Regions from separate parts of the Homo sapiens genome. Here regions 1 and 3 are each linked to region 2. Evidence: fine-mapped expression QTL. A gene starts in region 2. Each other region holds a variant in brackets. All regions are shown on one strand. Distances are between the middles of the regions.

Region 1 (5,226 bases), 32 kb after region 2:
ACTCTTGAACCCATTTTACAGTTGAGGAAACCAAGGCTCTGAGGACTTGGTTTACAGACCCAACATGCCCACTATCCCAAGGCCAATATGTAAGAGGCAACTCTATTGGCAGCTTTTCTGGGCTTCATTTAACAAACTCCTCTGTAGACATTAAGGTTCTGTTTAATTCATGTTCTAGAGGACAGAGGTTGTTAGCTCTCCATCTTGAGGCAAAACTCTTTGTCCCACCCTGCCCAATCAAGGCATGGAAGCCCTGTTTCTCATCTAGGAAGGGGCTGTGGTGTTCAGCTCAGCACCAACCTTATACTTCAGGGAGAGAAATGGGAAAGAAAAAAAGGGAGAAGAAAGCACATACATTCATCCTCCTCGGAACCAAACTCCTGAGTTAGGCCTTGGTTCTGGCTCCGTGGCTGCCACTAAAATCCCATGTGGCCTTGTTAAATCCCTCCCACCTCTGGCTCTCCACTTCCGCTTCTGTGGAGTTTTTATTCTAGCAATGAAACTTTTCACATATGAGCTCCTGGTTCTTTCTTATATCTGCCTGCTTTTGTCTCATAGTCTCCTGTTCTTTCTTTTCTTTGAGATAAAGTTTTGCTCTTGTTGCCCAGGCTGGAGTGCAATGGCGCGATCTTGGCTCACTGCAATCTCCACGTTCCGGGTTCAAGCGATTCTCCTGCCTCAGCCTCCTGAGTAGCTGGGACTACAGGCACCCGCCACCATGCCCAGCTAATTTTTGTATTTTTAGTAGAGATAGGGTTTCACCATATTGGTCAGGCTGGTCTTGAACTCCTGATCTCAGGTGATCCACCCGCCTCGGCCTCCCAAAGTGTTGAGATTACAGGCATGAGCCACTGCACCCGGCCTCCTGTTCTTGTTTATGGCTGTTATTCCCTTCTTTATCTCTTTGAGTTTTTAATATATTTATTGCAAAATTCTTTTAAGGTTGCACTATTATTCTCTATTTCCTCAGACGTAAATTCTTCCAGTTGGGGAGTTTGTGGAAATTTCATGAAGTGGTTGTGAATCCATTGTCTCTTCAGAATATTTCTTGCATGTGTATCTTGTAAGGGCTGTATATGAGAGCCTGTGCTCTTGGCTTCATACATTAGGGGGCCCTGCATTGGTACTAGCCTCCTAATGGGTAGGTGGTGGGGGGCTTCAACCCTTGTCTCTGGGCATCTCTGCAGTGGTCTCTTGTATACCTGGTATTTTCCTGTCATTGCTAAGTGTTTGAAGAATGGTTTCTATGTGTACTTGGTCTGCCATCTTGAATGAAAGTCCAATTTCACCATCTGTAAACATTTCACAGATGAGGCACCGGAAGTTCAGGGAGGTGGCCTGACTTGCCCCAGTCCACACAGCTAGGAGGGAGAATTTGAACCCAGCGAAACCCTATCCACTCCCCGCTCCTCGGCAGGCCCTGGCCCGGTGCTCCCCTCAGCTCTGACTCATTGCTAGCTCTGCATTCCCTGGACACCTTCTTCCTCAGAGAGCTGGGAGAATGGCCTCTACCCTGTAGACACGCTAAATAAACTCAAAATTTTGTTCTGGTGGACGAAGTGAAAAAAACCAAAACTGGCAGATTAGCTCGGTATAATATGACAAGGCCCTGGACTCTGCAGTCTGGCTGTGAGACCTCAGGGAGGTTACTTAACCTTGGGGAGCTTCAGTCTTCTCATTTGTCACATGGTGATAATAACTGTGTTTACCTTTCTGAGTAGTGATGTGAAGTGAAACAATGCATTAGTTTAGCACTTAGTAGCTGCTTATTAAATATTACTTCCTTCCATGGAGGAAAGCAAACTGGGGATGGGGCCAGGGGAATGTGATAGCTGATCCATCAAATTCCTGAAAGGTTTCATGGGCCAGAGGGAGGAGAGCTTCTCCATGGTCTGAAAAAGAGAACAGAGAATAACAGGGAAGGATCCAGGGAAGGTGACACAGCTGCAAAGTCTGTTCATTGGGGTAAAGAATAATCCCTTCAACAAATGGTACCAGGACAACTTGATTTCCACAAACAAAACAAACAAAAAGTCAGACCTCTATCTCACACATATAAAAAAACTAACTAAAATGGATCAATGACCTAAATATTAAATATAAGAGCCCAAACTGTAAAACTCTTAAGAAAACAAAGAGGTAAATATTTTTGGATTTCGCAGTGGATTCTCAGGTATAACACTCCAAGCACAAGCAATAAAAGAAAAATAGATAAACTGAACTTGATCAATATAAAAATCTTTTACTTTTTGTTTTTAATTTTTATTTGTTTTATTGTTTTTTTGAGACGGAGTCTCGCTCTGTCCCCCAGGCTGGACTGCAGTGGTGCAATCTCGGCTCACTACAATCTCTGCCTCCCGGGCTCAAGCAATCTTCCAGCCTCAGCCTCCTGAGTAGCTGGGATTGCAGGTGTCCATCACCATGACCAGCTAATTTTTGTCTT[C/G]TTAGTAGAGATGGGGTTTCACCATGTTGGCCAGGCTGGTCTCGAACTCCTGACCTCAGGTGATCCACCTGCCTTGGCCTCCCAAAGTGCTGGGATTACAGGCATGAGCCACTGTGCCTGGCCAAAAAACCTTTTAATTTTTAAATTAAAGGACATCATCAAAGGGTAGCCCAGAGAATGAGAAAAATGTTAGCAAATCATTTATCTGATAAGGATTTAGTGTTTAGAATGCATAAAGAATTCCTACAATCCAACAACAAAAAAATATCCAACTCAATTAACTGGGCAAAAGACTCGAACAGACATTTCTCCACAGATGCTATACAAATGGTTAACAAACACATGAAATGTGAACTTCATTAATCATAAGAGAAATGAAAATAAAAACCACAGTGACAAGCCACACCTCACACCTCCTAGGATGGCCGTGTGCACACACCGTAACTACGGCTGCTGAGGGTGTGGCGAAATTGGAACCCTCACACACTGTGGGTGGGGATGTGAGATGGTGCAGCCTCTGTGGAAAGCAGTTTGATGTTTCCCTACAAGGCTAAACATGGGCTGACCATCGACCCGGCAGTTCACTTTTAAGTATACACCCCAGTGAATTGAAAACAAGGTCTCAGATAATAGTAAACCAATGTTCACTGCAGCATCATTCACGATAGCCAAAAGGTTGAAACAACCCAAATGTCCATCAAATGATGAATGGATAAACAAAATGAGGTGTATACATTCCATGGAACATTATCCAGCTGATGGAACATTATCCAGCTGAAACAAGAGGGAAACTCTCTTGCCTGCTACAGCATGGAGGAAACTTGAAAATATGCTAGTGAAAGAAGCCAGACACAAAAGGACAAACATCGTATGGTTCCACTTACAGGAAATATCTAGAACAGGCAAATTCATAGAGACGGGAAGCAGATAGAAGTTACCAGGAGCTGGGGGGAGTAGGCAATGAGGAATCATGGATTCACGTTTACAGAGTTTCTGTTGGGAATGATGGAAAAGTTCGGAAATAGATAGGGGTGATGGTTGCACAACACTGTGAATGTAATTGACACTGAATTGTGCACCTAGAAAGTTAAAATGACAAATATTATTAAATATGTTTTACTACAATTTTAAAAATAGCTTAAAAAAACCCACCACCGCCACAAAATATACAGTTACTCTCTGTAAGTCCAGTGAGGATTAAAATACAATGGAAGGTCTCTTGCTCAAGCACAACCAACGTTGTCTATGCCACAATTTATAGACCTGTGTTTTTAAGTTTTGGCTTCAGCAAGGAGGTGAGCAGAACTTTCAGAGGAGGTTAAGGGCTTGGCAGATTTTGCTGGTGACACACCCGGACAGGAGTGGCCTTGATCTTGGTTTTCCCAGCCTCCAGAGCTGGGAGCAATACATTTCTGTTGTTGATGAATTACCCAGTCTAAGGCATTTTGTTGACAGCAGCACACACAGACTAAGACACAAGAGCACCAGCAACAAAAGAAAACAATGGAGAAGGTGGACTTCATGACATTGAAACTCTTTGTACAAGAAAAGTGTATCAAGAAATTGAAAAGAGAACTCACAGAATGGGCCTAGTACTTGCAAATCATATATTGGGGAAGAATCTAACATCCAACTTATATAAAGACCTTTGTATAAATCAACAATAAAAAGACAGTCTAAGTAAAAAATGGACAAAGGATTTGAACAAACATTTCTTTAAGACATACCATTGACTCATTAATGAGCACATGAAAAGATTCTCAACATTATTAATCATTAGGGAAATGCAAATGAGATAGCACTTCCAAAAGAAAAAAAAAGGTAAAGGAAAAATGGGCAAAAACAACTGTGGGAGTGGATGTGGAGAAGTCAGATCACTCGTGCATTGCTGGTGGGGATGTTACAAAGTGCAGCTGCTTTGTAAAACAGTTTGGCAGTTCTTTAAAAATTTAAACATAGATTAACCATCTGACCCAGGAATTCCACTCCTGGGTAATACTCAAGAGAATGGAAAACGTATGTTCACACAAAAACTGGTACATGAATGCATTGTGTATACAGTGGCATTATTCATAACAGCCAAAAAGTGGAAGTAACTCGAATGTCCATCAACAGATGAGTAGATAAATGTGTGGTATATACATACACGGAAGCCTTATTCAGCCATAAGAAGGAATGAAGTACTGATACATATGCCACAGCAGCCACTGACCTCAAAGACTTTACCGAGGTGACAGGATCCAGACACAAAAAGCCACATATTGTGTGATTCTATTTATATGAAGTGTTAAGCATGGGCAAATCCAGAGAGACAGAAGGTAGATAGTGGTTGCCAGGGGCTAGGGGAAGGACAGTGGGTAGTGACTGCTCATGGGCATGGAAGTTGTTTTTGGAGGTGGGGGAGGTGGCAGTGTTGATGAAATGTTCTGGAATGAGAGAGTGGTGATGGTTGCCCATCACTGTTAATACACTAAAAAGCAGTGAGCTTTATACTCTAAAATGGTTAAAGTGCATTTTGTTTGATGTGAATTTTATCTCAGTGTGAAAAAATCCTGCTGTCAGAAGAGTGTCTATTGGACCTGGCCTGTACTGGCACGAGGTTTTTTTTTTTTTTTTTTTTTTTTTTTTTTTTTGCTATTGGTGACTGGCCGAGCCATCTGTTGTGAAGATGGCTGCTTTGTAGTGTGGAAGGCTGTGGGCAGGACATGTCTGCCAACTCTAATGCAGACACTTCCCAGGAACTAATGACTATTAGTCTTTGTAATGCATCTTGAAGCCAAGTG
Region 2 (5,226 bases):
CCTAGCCCACATTTCCATCCGTTTGCCCTTTACTGTAAACATTCAAAAGATGCATCCACCTCCTTCCACTCTGGCAGAACAGAGGACCTTATCTGCATGCCAATCTCGGATTATCTGTAGCCCAATCTCAGAGCTGTCTGAGCACTGGGCTTTGTAGTTTCCAGACCAGCCTCTGGGACAGGAAGTGGGGGGCTCAAGGGTTGTAGGGCCAGTGCCTTGCAGAGGCTGGGAATCCCCTTCTCAGGACCTGAAGACCCTGGAAACTGGAAGCCCCCCACCCACACAGAGGCACCCTGTCCCATAGCTGGCTCAGCTTCCAGCTCCCTGGGGCGCTGGCCTCCTTCGGGGAGATATTTTACAACCAAAGTTTTCTTCTTTTATGTCCAGCAGCACGTGGGTGGGGTCAGGCTGCCTGGGCTGCAATCCCACCTGGCCACTTGGCATCTCTTAACCTCTCTGGGCTTTACTTACCTTATCTGGAAAATAGGTTGAATGGCTTATTAATTGTGATGTGCGTACAGCAATGTCTGGCACATAATCAGTGCGACTCTCATTATTGTAGTATGAATGTGATTTGATGCTGTAATTTCTCCTCTCTTCAGGGTGCCGGTGTCTTTTTCTCTCAATACTCCAAGAAATGAGCGTCCAGCATGGATGTGAAGGGATGCTTGCTGCACCTGGAGTTTCAAGATGCCGCTGGGGAAAAGGGAGGCTGCTAGCAAACACCATTTTGGAGGGGGCTGTATGAAGGAGAAAAGTAGCCTAGAGCCGGAACTCAGATTTTCTAAAGGGGATTCAGGCGGCCAGAGGATAGTAGAGGGCCAGAAAGGAGGTCCCCAAGGAGGCTTCGGGGTAGGGTGTGAGGGGATCCTCAGGCAGACTGGGGAGCTGAGCCTGTTGTAACCGAGCGAGTTACAGAGAAACGCCGCACTTTGAGACGAATTCAGGGGTCCTTTATTAGCTGGCGACTGAGAGACAGCTAGTGCTCAAAATTCTCTCAGCCCCAAAGAAGGGGCTTGATTTTCTTTTATACTTTGGTTTAGAAAGGACAGGTGGGGGTCTAAAACAATCTTACAGAAGTAAAGCAGGCAAAAAGTTAAAAGGATAAATGGTTACGGGAAAGCAAACAGTTCCAGGTGCAGGGGCTTAAAATCTATCACAAGGTGATAGACACGGGGCTTTGGGCGTTATCAACCGGACACAAACGCCGGGGCTCTGGGTGCTATTAACCGGGCGAATTCCTGGGAACTGCGGATATAGCTTGCCACAGTATCTTATCAGTTAATTGCATTCTTGGATGTGCTGGGAGTCAGCTTGCACAAATTAAGTCCTTGAGGAAGCGGGGTGGGTAAGGGGCTGCAAATGAAAGAGCCAAGATGGAGTCTGTCTGGCTCTCTTAGCTAAGGGAGAGTCAATTCAGGTTAAAACAAGGTAGGGTATCACAAGCCCACTTAACAAGGGCAGCAGGACCCCAAGAAGAAAAGCTTTAGGAGTCTCCACAGTGGGCCCAGGGCAGTTCCACACAGGTCTCTGAGGCCCCACAGACAGGAGAGCTGTGACGACTCCCTTAGTGCCCAAGAAAGCAAGGAGGTGGTGGGCAAGGGGCTCCCAGAGGCCTTGGGGCACTAGAGGGGAGATGGAGCCGAGGGAGTGGCTCTGCAGGCCCCTCTCTGAGAGAGTGCATGAGGTGTGGCCCCAGGCCCAAGGGTAGGGGGTGCACAGGGTGAGGGAAGGGAGGAGAGGAAGAGGAGGAGGAGGTGGTGGCCACAGCGGGATGGCACTCAGCCAGGTTCAGCTTCGTGGGAAAGGTCCCAGGTGGGCCGGGCTAGCACTGGGGATGCCCTGGCTCTGTGTCTCGGTTGGGTGGCTGACTCCTCCTGGAACGCATCCCTGACATCCTCCAGGCTGGCTTGGGGATACTCTGGGGACACACAGTGCCCAGGCTTCCGGCCTCCCAGCCCTGGCTCCCTGTGGACTCAGCTGCCCCCAACAAGCCTGCGAGCCACTGGAGAGCAAGGGCAGGCTGTCCTTGCCATCCAGATGCCTGGCACAGAAGGGGTTCTCACCTTCGGGGTATGGGCTGACTCAGTGGGTTTCTCCTCCCTCCAGCTCTAACCTGCCTGTGGAATAAACAAATCACTCCTCTGGGTTGTCTAGCTGGTGCAGGCCCCAGGGCGACGCCCCTTTGAGGGGAAAATGGGGGCATTCCAGTTTCCATGAGCCCTGGGACTCCCCTCCTTCCCACCACTGCTGCCTACCCTCCGGTTCCAGGTATGCAGGCTTCCTCCCTTCTGACGGTTCCTGCTGCTGGAGTCGTCCTTCCTGAAACCCTGCCTTTGCTTAGCCTCATTCCCATCTCTCAGTCCCATCCTGCAGCTGGGCAGGCAGTGCTGGGCCCCGGAAATGCCCTCTGCCTCCCTGGAGCACGTGGCCTGTGATTTTCCTTGAGCACAGCACTTTGTGACTTTGATGTAAACATCAAACACAGCCCCCTTTCCTGTCTTCGCATCCAGGAAATAGGTTAGTTTCAGACAAGCCTGCTTGCCGGAGCTCAGCAGACACCAGGCCTTCCGGGCAGGCCTGGCCCACCGTGGGCCTCAGAGCTGCTGCTGGGGCATTCAGGTAAGCGGCTGTCCTCGGGCCTTCTGCCTGTGTCCTGCCACCAGGGCCACCCCAGGGGGCTCTGGGAGACCTGGCAGAGGATGAACCCCCCCCATCCATGAGTGAGAAACCCTGGCGGGGTGTGACATCCTCCCCCGGGGTGTGTGCGGAGAGTGTGAGCGGCAGGGCCTCCCTCTCAGGCTGGGGGCTTGGGCTGCAGGGAAATCCAAACCGGCTTTGTAAGCCCCGATTCCTCACCCAGAACCGGCTCTCCATTGGCATTGGGACCAGAGACCCCGCAAGTGGCCTGTTTGCCTGGACATCCACCTGTACGTCCCCAGGTAAGTGGTGCCTGGGTGGAGTGGCACCTGGCCACCGTCTCCATGGTGGGCTGTGTCTGGAGGAGGAAGACAGAATATTAACTGGGAGTCAGGAGGTTGCTGGGAGGACCAGGAGAGCTGGAGGACTGGGCTGGGTGGTGACTGGCTGGAGATGGAGGCAGACGGGGCTTGTGGCCACGCTGAGGGAAGCAGCTCCCCCTCCAGAGGCTTGGCCGAGCGGGGCTGTTCAGGGGACACGGTGAGGCCTGCTCAGTCCCTGGGCTCCTGCTGGGCCCTGTTTGGCTGCATCCTTGGCTCTCGGAGGCAGAGAAACCTCCAGAGAAAGCGCATGTGCACTCTGTGAAGATGAGGGGGCTGCTCACCAGGGCCGTGAGCTCCATCAGCAGAATGCTGTGATTCCTGTGAGGAGTCCAGGGCAGGCTTGAGCCACTTGTAGGCGAGCTCAGGTTAGAGGAAGACCTGGAGAGAGAAAGAGCAAAACACCGAGTTCTCCTCAACTGCTGTGTGTTCTCGGCAAGTTGCTTGGCCTCTCTGACCTCAGTTTGTGCATCTGTTAAATGCACATGCAGATATGGGCACCTGGCAGGCGCCTGGTTCCTGACTGTTGGCGAGAGGCTGGGAAATGTGTCCCAGGTAGGAAGCATCCCCGACAGGAAGGAACAGGAGTTCATGAGGTGAGCAGCTCGAGATGATTCATTACTCTCGTCTTGGTTGGAACAGTAGGCAGACAGGAGGTGTTTAATAATGCCTTGCTGAGAGATCAGGGTCAGGGACTCCTAAGGTGCCACCTGTGAAGCTGCCTCCTGCTGAATCCAGAGCTTCCTTTTCCTCTTCACACCTGCCCTCCATCCTCAGCCCCACTGCCCTGGCAGTGTTGCGGGGGTGGTGTTGATGTGCACACTCTGGAGCCTGGGGGCCTGGCTTCACATTCTGGCTCTGCCACTCACCAGCTGTGTGACTGGACCAGTCACCGCATCTCTCTGTGCTTCCCTCCCAGGGCTCTCGGGAGGATAAAGAGAGTGACTGTATCCACACTGCCCGGCACATACAGGTGCTGCAGAAAGGTCTCACTAAAACCCTCATTATCCTCACTAGCTCTGGGTGGCCTCGGGCTCTGGACTCCACAGTTCCTGTATGCTCTCCGGGGCTGCAGCACCCAGACCACCCCGTGCTGACCACTCCCTGCCCCACCCCAAGGTACAGGGTTAAGGCAGCCATTCTCATCAGAGCCAATTTTACCTCCTCCCGTCTCCCTGGGACAGTTGATAGTGCCTGGAGACAGTTTGGGTTGTGACCCAGCGGGTGTTACTGGCATCCAGCATGTCCAGGACAGGAATCCTGTGAACAGCCTACAAGGCCCAGGACAGTCCCACCCTGTTCCATTGTCTCTATCAGCCCCTATCCTCCTGACTCACACCGCCTTTTCCCATCTCCCTTTTACAGTCACAGAGCCTGAGGCCCAGAGAGGGACCGCTGCTTGCTGAGGTCACACAGGCAGTGGAGGCCGGAGTTGGGGGCCTCACTGGAGGGGCGGTGGAAGGGCATTGTTCAATCAACAGACACTTGGAGAGTGTGCTGGGTTGGGGAATCTGACCCTGACCCCGCACCAGCCCAGCTCTCCAGGGTCTCCTAATAGACATTTGCTGGAGTGGTTAGTGCTGGCTGCTGCATTGGACAGACCTGAGTTCAAATCCTGGTGGCCCCTTGCAGGCTGCATGTTCTGAGAGTGACATTGACCTCTCCGAGCCTCAGTTTCTTTAGCTGAGGAGTGGGATAACAGTTCCCACCAAATGTAGTTGTGGTGAGAATTAGAATAAATGGCTAATGCTCGCAAAGGGTAGTGCAGTCCCCAGCACAGAGGCTGTTGTGATTGTCCTTACACACTTGACAAATATTTGTGGGGAGGAAGCAGGAGCTTCCATAGAAAACAAGACAGAGCCGTGGGCCCTGCCTCGGGGAGCTCAGCCTGGTGAGGGACTGAGGAGCAGAGACAGAGGCCATCAGGGCTGTGATGTGGGAGGATGGGGACCCTGGAAGCCTAGGGGAGGTGCCTGACCCAGGCTGGGGAGGGGGCAGGGCTCATGGAATGCTTCTGGGAGGATGGGACAACGGAGGAGGCCTGAAGCCGGAGGCCCAGTAGAAGGATGCAGCGCAGTTCTGGGCTGAGGGAATAGCCTGTGGCCAGGATCCTCAGGATGGGCCCCTCCTCTCCCGCCATCCTCCACCCAAGGAAGCCCCTGTGGCCCCTCACCCCTTCCCAGGTGTCAGGTTCCACCGGTGCTCA
Region 3 (5,226 bases), 150 kb after region 2:
AGATGGTCATAGAACACCAAGCAGATTTAACTCAAAGACTACCTCAAGGCATTTAATAATCAAACTTTAAAAAATCAAGGATAAAGAAAGGATCCTAAAATTAACAAGAGAAAAGAAACAGAATTAGGTACAATGGAGCTCCAATACCTGGCAGCAAACTTTTCAGTAGAAATCTTACAGGCCAGGAGAGACTGGCATGACATACTTAAAGTGCTGAAGGCAACAACAACAAAAAAAACCCCCACACTTTTACCCTAGAATAGTATATCTGGCAAAAATATCCTTTCCAGCGAAAATATCCTTCAAATATGAAAGAGGAATAAAGACGTTCCCAGACAAACAAAAGCTGAGGGATTTCACTAACATCAGATATATCTTACAAGAAATGCTAATGGGAGTTCTTTCAAACTGAAAGAAAGGGACATTAGTTAGCATCTCTCCAGGACGTTGGAGTGGGCACAGATTTCTTGAGTAATACTCCGCAAGCACCAGTAACCAAAGCAAAAATGGACAAATGGGATCATATCAACTTAAAAAGCTTCTGCACAGCAAAGGAAACAATCAACAAAGTTAAGAGACAGCTCACAGAATGGGAGGAAATATTTGCAAACTACCTATTTGACAAGGGATTAATAATAACTAGAATATATGAGGAACTCAAATGACTCTAAAGGAAAAAATCTAATAACCTGGTTAAAACATGGGCAAAGTATCTGAATAGGTATTTCTCAAAAGAAGACATACAAATGACAAAGAGGTATATAAAAAATGCTCAATATGACTATCAGGGAAGTGCAAATCAAAACCACAATGAGATATCTGATTCCAATTAAAATGGCTTTATCCAAAAGGCAACAACAAATACTGGCAAGGATATGGAGAAAAGGGAATGTTGGTGGGAATGTATTAGTACAAACACTAGGAACAACAGTTTGGAGGTTCCTCAAAAAACTAGAAGTAGAGCTACCATACAATCCAGCAATCCCAGTCATGAGTATACACCCAAAATAAAGGAAATCAGTATATTGTAGCGTTTTATGTACTCCCATGTTTATTACAGCACTATTCACAATAGCCGAGATTTGGAAGCCACCTAAGTGTTTATTACCAGATGAATGGATAAAAAAAATGTGGTACATATACACGATGGAGTACTATTCAACCATGAAAAATAATGAGATCCTGTCATTTGCAACAACCTGGATGGAGCTAGAGAACATTATGTTAAGTAAAATAAGCCAGACCCAGAAAGACAAACTTTCCATGTTCTCACTATTTGTGGGAGCTAAAAATCAAAACAATTGAACTCATGGAGATAGAGAGTAGGAGGATGGTTACCAGAGGCTGGGAAGGATAGCAGCGGGGATGGGTAGAAATGGGGATGATTAATACGTATAAAGAAACTGAAAGTATGGATAAGACCTAGCATTTCCTAGCACAACACGGTGACTACAGTTAAAAAAAAAATTAACTGTACCTTTTAAATAACTACAATAATATAAATGGATTGTTGGTAACACAAAAGATAAATGACTGAGGTGATGACTATCCCATTTACCTTGATGTGATTTTTATGCATTGCATACCTGTATCAAAATATCTTAGGTAATCCATAAATATATATATCTACTATGTACCCACAAAAATTTAAAATAATTTTAAAAAAAAGCAACAAATTAATCAGGGGCTAATTTAGGTTCCTTAAAGATAGTGATTTAGTACATGCTGGCTCTTCCTGCCATCTTCCTTCCCCACAACAATAATGCTGAAAAAATTTAGAAGTTAGAGGGAGGTACTGACTCCAAGAAATAACCAAAAAACAGTGAGAAGCCCTTGGGAGAACTGAAGGCTGCCTTAAAGTGGCAGGCAAAGGAAAGTGAGTGTCAATGGGCAGCCTGAGCTGACAACGAGAGGCTAGGCTATGAGAAGGCTTCCGAACTTTATTATTCTCCACTTTCTTCCCTGTCTGCCTTGAGATAGAGCCAGATCCTTCAACCTAGAATAGAAAAGCTTGCCAGGGTAAGGAGTTGATGAGCAGCTGCCCTTGAAATGCTCTCCTCTAACATCTCTCTCTGGTCCTCCACAGTCCTAGGGCTACTGAACTATGATTTAGGAAGACACCTTTGTCCCACGATGCTTCTGCCTAAGCATTGTCAGTTAAGAGTGGTGACAAATATGGGGCAATCAATAGTTTTTATGTGTATGTATGGAACTGGGGCTCTCCATTTTGGGGATTATCTCTCCTTTTAAATTCACAAGAAGAGACAAAGACCAGGGCTTGGCCTTCTGCCCTTCTCAATACGCATTACCAGACAGTAGCTCATAAGTTCACACACCCAAGTAACATGATATGTTTGGAGTAAATTAATTGGATAACACACACAATGTTGTGATAGATTGTAATGTGGTCTATTGCCATGGTCAAACTTGGAACAGAATGTTGAAGAGAAGTGACAGGAATAGATCTCCTTGTGTTGTTCTTGATGTAGGGGGAATTTTTTCATTCTTTCACCATTAAGTACGATGTCAGCCTTCAGGTTATCATAGATGCTCTTTATTAGGTTGAAGAAAATCCCGTCTATCCTAGTTTGTTAGGCATTATTATCATGAAAGGATGTTATTATCTCAAATGTTTTTTCTGTGTTTATTGACTTGATTATTGGTTTTCCCTGTATTGATTTTTTCAATGTTAAACCAACCCTGCATTCTTGAGATAAATGTCACTTGGTCATGGTGTACACTAGATTCTTTTTATAATCTATTAGCATTTTGTGGAGGATTTTTGCGTCTATATTCAGCAGAAGTATTTGTCTATATTTTCTTGTAGTGTCTTTGTCTGGTTTTGGTATTAGGGTAATACAGATCTAACAGACTAAGCTGGGAATTGTTTCCCTTTCTATTGTTTGGAAGAGTTTGGGAATAATTGGTATTAATTCTTCTTTGATTGTTTCATAG[A/G]ATCCTTAAGTAAAGCTATGTGGAGCAGGGCTTGCTTTCTGGCAAGTTTTTGTTTTGTTTTGTTTTGAGATGGAGTCTCGCTCTGTCACCCAGGCTGGAATGAAGTGGCACGATCTCGGCTCACTGCAAGCTCCGCCTCCTGGGTTCACGCCATTCTCCTGCCTCAGCCTCCCGAGTAGCTGGGACTACAGGTGCCCACTAACACGCCTGGCTAATTTTTGTTGTATCTTTAGTAGACGTGGGGTTTCACCGTTAGCCAGGATGGTCTCGATCTCCTGACCTCGTGATCCGCCTGCCTCGCCTCCCAAAGTGCAGGGATTACAGGCGTGAGCCGCCGTGCCCAGCCACTTTCTGGCAAGTTTTTAAATGACTAATGCAAACATTTCACTTGTTATAAGTCTATTCAGATTTTCTATTTCTCCGTGAGTCAGTTTGTGTATTTTGGGTCTTTCCGGAAATCTGTCCATTTCAACTAAGTTAATGAATTAGCATACAGTTGTTCATAAAATTGCCCTGTAATCTTCTTTCTATAAAGTTGACAGTAATGTCACCTCCTACATTCCTGATTTTAGTAATTTGAGTCTTTTCTGTTTATTCCCTGGTCAGTATAGCTAAAGGTTTGACAATTCGATCTTTTCAAAGAACCAACTTTTGGTTTTGTTGATTTTGTTATGTTTTTCTATTCTGTATTTTATTTATTTCCTCTAGTTTTTATTATTTCTGTTTGCTTTAGTTGGCTCTTTTGCTAGTTTTTTTAGGGAGAAGGTTAAGTTTCTGATTTGAGATATTTTGGTGTGTATATGTTTCCTTCCCAGCAATGTTTTTGCTGCATCCCGTAAGTTTTGATATGTTTTGTTTTTGTTCATCTCGAAGTATTTTCTAATTTCCCTTTTGATTTATTCGATTCACTGATTATTAAGGAGTATGTTTATTATCCCAAGACTTTTTTGATTTCCAATTTATTTCAGTAGAAAATTAAGACAGAGAACATACTTTGTACAGGACGAGTATCCCTCTTACCTGAAATGCTTGGAACCATGAGTGTTTTGAATTTCAGATTTTTTCAGATTTTGAAATATCTGCATTACACTTATCAGTTAAGCAACCCTAATCTGAGAATCTGCAATTCTTCAATAAGCATTTCCTTTGAGCATCATGTTGGCACACAAAAAAATTCAGATTTTGGAGCATTTTGGATTTTCAGATTAGGAATGTTCAGCCTGTATTGTTTAAATCCATTTAAAATTACTAGTGTTTGTATTATGGATTAGCATATGGTCTATCTTGGAGAACATTCTACATATGCCTGAGCTGAATAAGTATTCTGTTGTTGAGCATGGTGTTCTACAGATGTCTACAAGTCAAGTTGGTTTATACTTTTTCCAAGTCTTCTATATCTTTATCTTCTGCCTAGATGGTATAGCCATTATTGAAAATGGGGATACTGAAGACTGTCATTATTACTGTCGCATTGTGTATTTCTCCCTTCAGTTCTGGCAGTTTTGCTTCATATATTTTGGGTGAGTCTCTGTTATTAGTTATATATATATATGTTTATAATTGTTATATCTCCCTGGATTGACCCTTTTGTAATCATAAAATGTCCATCTTTATTTGTAGTAACTTTTTGGTTTTAAAGTCTGTGTTGTCTGATATGCTTTTCCCCTAGTGATGCCCTGCTGTACAAGTAGTGGTCACTGGGGAAGGGGTGGTAGACCCTGGTCTTCTCAGCTTGCTCTTCCTAGTGTGGAACTTATCCTACTAGTGAGGTGAGCAAGATTGGGTTCCCCAGGTTTCAGGCCTGCTGCATCTGGGATACAGCATCTGTCCTAGAGTGGGGTGGGTGAAGAGAGACCCAGTCCTTTCTGAAATGTGCCTGAAATAGAACTTCTGCAACATAAAGTTGGAGATGATGAGAAATGCTAGCAGCCCTCCCTTCTCAGGGTGAAACTGCAGTCCCAGAGTATAAACTGGGGTTAGAGGGAGCTTCTATAACAAGGAGCTGGGGCTTGAGGGGTATGTGGTGGGGAGCATAATAGAATAGGTTGTAGCCCAAATGCCAGAGACTGCCACTGTTCTTATGAAGATTTACAACATTTTTTTGAATGAATAATTTCCTGCAACTTTAATAACTTTTTAAAAAATAATTCTCATTAGTTAAAGTACTGTCTGTTGAGGTGGTCCATTGAGCTCCTTACTCCATTCTTAAAATCCCATGCCCTAAGGGTATATTTGCTTCAAGTATTCGGAAGCTCCATTGTTAGATGCATG

The links.
Region 1: its variant is fine-mapped to the expression of ZAP70 in whole blood (TOPMed, PIP above 0.99).
Region 3: its variant is fine-mapped to the expression of ZAP70 in whole blood (TOPMed, PIP 0.98).

The regions. Positions count from the first base shown.
Region 1 is chr2:97,742,773-97,747,998 of GRCh38, forward strand. It overlaps a transcript of ZAP70 not described here. Among named protein-coding and RNA genes, the nearest start is that of ZAP70, 32 kb to the left of the region's middle. RefSeq lists a silencer at 2,869-2,978. The variant C/G (reference allele first, on the strand shown) is at 2,444.
Region 2 is chr2:97,711,053-97,716,278 of GRCh38, forward strand. It overlaps ZAP70 (zeta chain of T cell receptor associated protein kinase 70), which reads left to right and starts at 2,524. Exons shown (of 14, transcript NM_001079.4): 1 at 2,524-2,622; 2 at 2,864-2,942. RefSeq lists a silencer at 169-358 and enhancers at 2,332-3,305, 4,537-5,052, 5,053-5,226.
Region 3 is chr2:97,862,880-97,868,105 of GRCh38, forward strand. All of the region lies in intron 4 of TMEM131 (transmembrane protein 131), which reads right to left. Among named protein-coding and RNA genes, the nearest start is that of TMEM131, 130 kb to the right of the region's middle. The variant A/G (reference allele first, on the strand shown) is at 2,956.